2 separate regions of the Homo sapiens genome follow, and region 2 is linked to region 1. Evidence: fine-mapped expression QTL. Tissue or cell type: adrenal gland. Region 1 holds a variant in brackets; the other region holds the start of a gene. All regions are shown on one strand. Distances are from middle to middle.

Evidence for each region. PIP is the estimated chance that this variant, and not a neighbour inherited with it, causes the effect.
Region 2: it holds the start of ZNF469, and the variant in region 1 is fine-mapped to the expression of ZNF469 in adrenal gland (GTEx, PIP above 0.99).

What each region holds. Positions count from the first base shown.
Region 1 is chr16:88,237,451-88,240,203 of GRCh38, forward strand. It overlaps a transcript of ZNF469 not described here. Among named protein-coding and RNA genes, the nearest start is that of LINC02182, 45 kb to the left of the region's middle. RefSeq lists an enhancer at 2,693-2,753. The variant C/G (reference allele first, on the strand shown) is at 1,445.
Region 2 is chr16:88,381,606-88,384,358 of GRCh38, forward strand. ZNF469 (zinc finger protein 469) reads left to right here and starts at 1,354. Exons shown (of 3, transcript NM_001367624.2): 1 at 1,354-1,649. RefSeq lists an enhancer at 170-713.

The sequences.
Region 1 (2,753 bases):
CTCCTGCCACTCACCCTCCCTGCCCTCCGTGCTCCTGCCACGCACCCTCCCTGCCCTCCTTGCTCCTGCCACGCACCCTCCCTGCCCTCCGTGCTCCTGCCACTCACCCTCCCTGCCCTCCGTGCTCCTGCCACTCACCCTCCCTGCCCTCTGTGCTCCTGCCAGTCACCCTCCCTGCCCTCCTTGCTCCTGCCACTCACCCTCCCTGCCCTCCGTGCTCCTGCCACTCACCCTCCCTGCCCTCTGTGCTCCTGCCAGTCACCCTCCCTGCCCTCCGTGCTCCTGCCACGCACCCTCCCTGCCCTCCTTGCTCCTGCCACTCACCCTCCCTGCCCTCCTTGCTCCCGCCACTCACCCTCCCTGCACTCTGTGCTCCTGCCAGTCACCCTCTGCCCAGCCCCGGCAGCTGCTGATCTTTCTTGTTTTCATGGTTTTGCCTTTTCCTGAATGTCATGGAGTTGGAATCACACAGTATCCAGCCTTCTCCAATGGGCTTCTTCACCTAGCAGCACCTAAGACTCCTCCCTGCCTTTTCACAGCCTGGCAGTTCCTTTCTTTATAGCACTGAAAAATATTCCATTGTCTGGAGGGACCCCAGCCCATCCATTCACCTATGAAGGTATCTTGGTTTCTCCTAAGTTTCTGGAGATGATGAAATCCACCCTCTAATTTTCACCTGTTTCTCTGTGCTCCGCCCCTCCCAACTGGGAGCTCTGACGGGGAGGGGGATGCCCACGCTGCCATGTGGCCGGCAGCACCCACTCACCCTGTGTCTGCTGAACTGCATGGTAGGGAACAGAAGGGAGGCTGGAAGTTCCCCGTGGGAAGGGAGAGAGGAATGAGCCCTTCTGTCCCTCTGTCGGGTGGAGAGCCGCACAAGTGACACACAGGGGTCCCTCCCTGATGCTGCTGGGAAGGAGGCAGGAGGAAGGGATGTCCCAAAGTGGGACGCAGAGACCCTAGATAGATAGACCCTAGGTAGACCCTAAATAGACCCTAGATAGACCCTAAATAGATAGACCCTGGATAGATAGACCCCAGATAGACTCTAGGTAGACCCGAGGTAGACTGCCTGGGTCTTTCCAAGCCAACTTGAGGGCTTCCCTTAGGAGGCCACTGTCCAGGTCCTCTCTGGGTTGGAGACTGGGGTTTGCCAATCACCACTTAATTTAAACACTTTAAAATGTATATATCTGAGAACATTCAGGACCAGAAGGCAGTGAAGTTGATAGCTTCCTATCAACCCTCTTAAAACCATGGAGATCCCAGCCTTCTCTGCAGGGAAGGGGGCAGAGCCCGGAACCTGACCCTGGGGCAGCCATGCCCTGTGATAATCCACCAGAGCCCAGCAGCCCACTGTCCTTGTTGAGAAGAGCAGGCGCCTCTGCTTTGTAGTGGAATCACTGCATACAGAACATGCTTCTGAAAGTTCCTGCCCCTCAGC[C/G]TTGTGGAGATCCGGCCTCCCTCCCTCCCATGGCCTTGGCTGTCTGCCCAGCTTCAGGAGATACAGTCCAGCCTCCTTGGTGACTGTGTGAGGCTGGGTGAGTCACTGCCCCCTTTCTGACCTTGTCTGATTCATGGTAAAACGGGCTATGAGTAACTGGTTTAATCTTGCACATGAACTGGGATTGACTGGTAATGGCTGTCTGGAGTCTGGGTCTAGCTCTGTGTAGATTAGACATGTCTGCCATGGTGCGGGTGAGGGAGGTGGGGTTGTGCCGAAGTCTCTGCCATCGGCTATTCTCTGGGGTTTTTCTACTGGTCCTACTCGTTTTTGTTCATTTTATAATCCAGAGTTGTGAGTTGGGTAGATCAGCTGGGAAAAAATTGAAAAGTAGTTGTTTTAATTATTTCCCCTTTATGTGGTTAAAAAGAAGATGAAGAAGATTCTTTAAGTTCTAGCATTGACTGTTGAAAGCCACTTATATAAAAGGTGCCAAGAACTACAGGATTCTTTCATCTACTGCTTTGCTTCAGGTGAGACTTGGAATATGATGGGATCAGGAATGGGTCTGAGTGCGAATTTTCATGATGGTCTCTCTTTTTTTTTTTTTTTGAGACGGAGTCTCGCTCTGTCACCAGGCTGGGGTGCAGTGGCGCGATCTCGGCTCACTGCAAGCTCCGCCTCCCAGGTTCACGCCATTCTCCTGCCTCAGCCTCCCGAGTAGCTGGGACTACAGGCACCTGCCACCACGCCCGGCTTATTTTTTTTTTTTGTATATATATATATATATATATATATATATATATATATATATATATATATTTTTTTTTTTTTTTTTTTTTTTTTTAGTAGAGACAGGGTTTCACTGTGTTAGCCAGGATGGTCTCCATCTCCTGACCTCGTGATCTGCCTGCCTTGGCCTCCCAAAGTGCTAGGATTACAGGTGTGAGCCACCATGCCTGGCTAACAATCACTGTGGTCTCTTAATGACAGTGTTATCTTGCATGCCCAGAAATTTACATTATTTCCAGCTTGAAATTGCCCAGCTAGGTAGGTATTACAATCTGATGGTGGAAAAGCTCAGGCAGACCTGCCCAGGCCCCATTGGCGGTGGAGGGGCTGCTGCTCTGGCCTGTGCTCGGGGCCATCGATCCTCCTGCCCAGAGAAGAGCCAAACACCCATGCCCATTGGTGACTGACCCTGAGCCGGCGATGCTGGCTGCCTATGATGATTTAAGGGGGTGATTCTCAAAGCCTGCTCTGTCCTGCCAGCCCCAATCAGCAGTGGGAGGTGCTCCCGGTCATTTCT
Region 2 (2,753 bases), 140 kb after region 1:
TTCTTCCCCATTTTCCATGGAAAGGGAGATCCCAGGACCTGGAGGCCCCAGATGATGCCATGGAAATGTGAGCCAAGCCTCGAGCCTCTGGGGCCTTTCAGCCCCTGCCCCTTTTTCAATTCACGTTTTCGCGTCCACTGGCAGGAATGCCATGTGCTGCGATGCCAGCACAGAAACCCCACTGCCATGTGCAGTTCCTTTTAGTTTATTCTATACCGTTCGCAGAGTCCCAAAACAGCTTCAGGAGGCAGACCAGATTGGGGGAGGGGCAGGCCCACTCATTGGCTCCACCAGAAGGCCCGTGGTTAGGCCACACCTTGCTTTACATAATAAAGGTGTCCTTAAAAGGGTGTGCAACTTGAACTTGCGTAAGTAAAGCGTGCTTGACCTGCTCCCGGGGGACCTTTGTCTGAAGGACTAATTCTGAAAGCATTCCTTTCTGCGAAGTCCCCCCACTGCCACCCTATTTCTTAGAAGTCCACCAAGTTCATGACTTGGGATCCTCTGAAGTGGGGGAGGGCGATCCGTCCCCAGATGCTGCCCGTAACGCTGCACCCCTGCCCTTGGAGGAGGCCCACACGCCCCTGTCTGGGACAGCCGGGGACGGGCACGTACTGGGCCAGGGGGCTCTGCCTGGAGCCATCTCCGCCGTGTGGCCTTGGGCAGGTTCCTTGTCTTCTTCAGGCCTTGGTTTCCTTGGCTGTGAATGGAGATGTTGGACAAATGACCGGTAAGGGCCTCTCCCTCTCTAGGGGCCTGGATGGCTCCTAGCGCCCCACCAGCAATGCTGCCGAACTCACGGGCCAGTCTGGGGCAGTCCCAGGGCTGGACAAGGGACCCAGAGTGGAGACACGAAGGTCTGGGGGCAATGTTAGCTCCCACCTATGAGAAAGCGTGCCATGGGGACCTCCTTATGGTGCCTTCGAGGGCCAACTTGAGCCACTCAAACCGAACTTGCCCAGGCAGGTGCCAGGTGCCAGTCGGGACATCCCCCACCTCCTAGACAGAAGCACAGGGACAAGCGTGTCATGTGTGGGCACCTGGGGAGCTGGAGCGCAGGCCAGGGATGGAGATAGAGCAGCCACTGGAAGCCACATGGGTAGCATTATGGCAGACGTTTTTTAAGTTGTGCTGAATGCAGCGTTTCCGTCTCAGCAGCAAGGCCTGCCATTCTGGGGTGGGCTGGCTGGGGAGTGTGAAGAGGGGGTTCAGGGAGCAATGCCTCAGGGCCCCCCATCGCCGGGGTGGGTCCCATGAAACAAACACCTAGGAAAAGCGGCGCTAAAAATAGCTGGGGGGAGGGTGCGGGGGCGGCGGAGTCTGTAACCTAAGCCGCCCCAGCCTCCGGGGGGCAGACCCCGCGGCCGCCGGCCGGCGTCCGGCCTTCCCAGCACCCGGCCCAGGGCTGGAGCTGGCTGCAGGGCTGGCCCGCGGCGACCTGGGCAGGGTGGCGGCTGCTCCCTCTCCTCCCACCCCGCCCCGAGGCGCAGCGCGCGGCAGAGCGGCTCGGTGCCCGGCGGGCGGGCGGCCCGGGCGGGCCTGCGGTCGGGATGAGGACGGCGCCTCCGCTGCAGAGCGCTGGGGCGGCGCGGGCCGGGAGCTCGTTGGCGGCGGCCGGCGTGGCGGGCGGAGCGGGCCTCGGAGCGGAGGTGAGTGCGGATGCGCCGCCTGGGCGCGCGCGGTGCCTGGGGACCCCGGGCTGGAACGCGGGGCGGGGGTGTCACCGGGCTGCGCGGGGGTCTCCGGCCCGGCTCCCGCTCCTGCGCCCTCGGGGGCCGCTCCCCGGCGGGGCCGGACCCTCCCAGCGCTCGCGGCGCCCGGCCCGGCTCCCCCGACCTCCTCCTCCCGGGCCCGGACGTGCGGGGCAGCGAGCGCCGGGGCCCGGCGGGGGCCGCAGCCTTGCCCGGAGCGGAGCGTTGGCAGCGCGGGGTCCGGCTCCGTGGGCAGTTTGGGAAGCGCCCGGGCAACGTACTGGCGAGGGCCGCGGAGCGAGGGGCTCGGGGAGCGGGACCTCCGGGCGGGGCTGCGGGGAGCGGGGCCCGGGCCGCCCCATTCATCGCGGATCGGAGCCGGGGGTGCCCCAGCCGTGCCGCCGCCTCCTCCGGGCCGCCCGCCCGGGCGTGCTGGCCCCGCGGCGCTCCGAGCGCGGCATAGGCTTGCGAGTCGGCGGTGTCAGCGCCCCGGACGGGGGTGGGAGCTTTGGAGCCCACCCTGGGGGAGACCACGCCGCACCCCCGCCCAGCCCCGCGCACCCCCAGAGGCTTTTGCAGAGCCGGGAAGTTGGCTGGACGTCTAGACCCGTGGGGACGCGGCGCCCCGCGTGGCGGCGGCCGGAAGGGAAGGCCAATGGGGCTCGGGGGACTCCCGCGGCCACCCAGTCCTTGTCCCTGCACCCTGGGCCGAGGGCAGAGGGACAGGTCCCCGGCGGGGGCGGGGGGGCAGCTCAGCTGCCAAGTCCGCTCCTGCAGCGGAGGCGGTTAACTGCTTCATCCCCAGCCGTGAGCCATGCTGGGCATAGGGAGTGTGCCACGTGTTATCACGTTTAATCCTTACGTCCTGAGATCCGTGTTAACCCAAGTCTTAGATGCAGAAACTGATGGTCAGAGTGGGCTGATGCTGGGAAGTGAGCACAGCACGCGGTAGTGTCGTGGACAGCCCCTGCCCATTCTGCCAAGAGCAAGTCTAGTTCCCTTCTGCCGGTCGGGTGGACAAAGGTGTCTTGAGGCCCTCTCAGTGCCCAGCCTGTCCTAGGT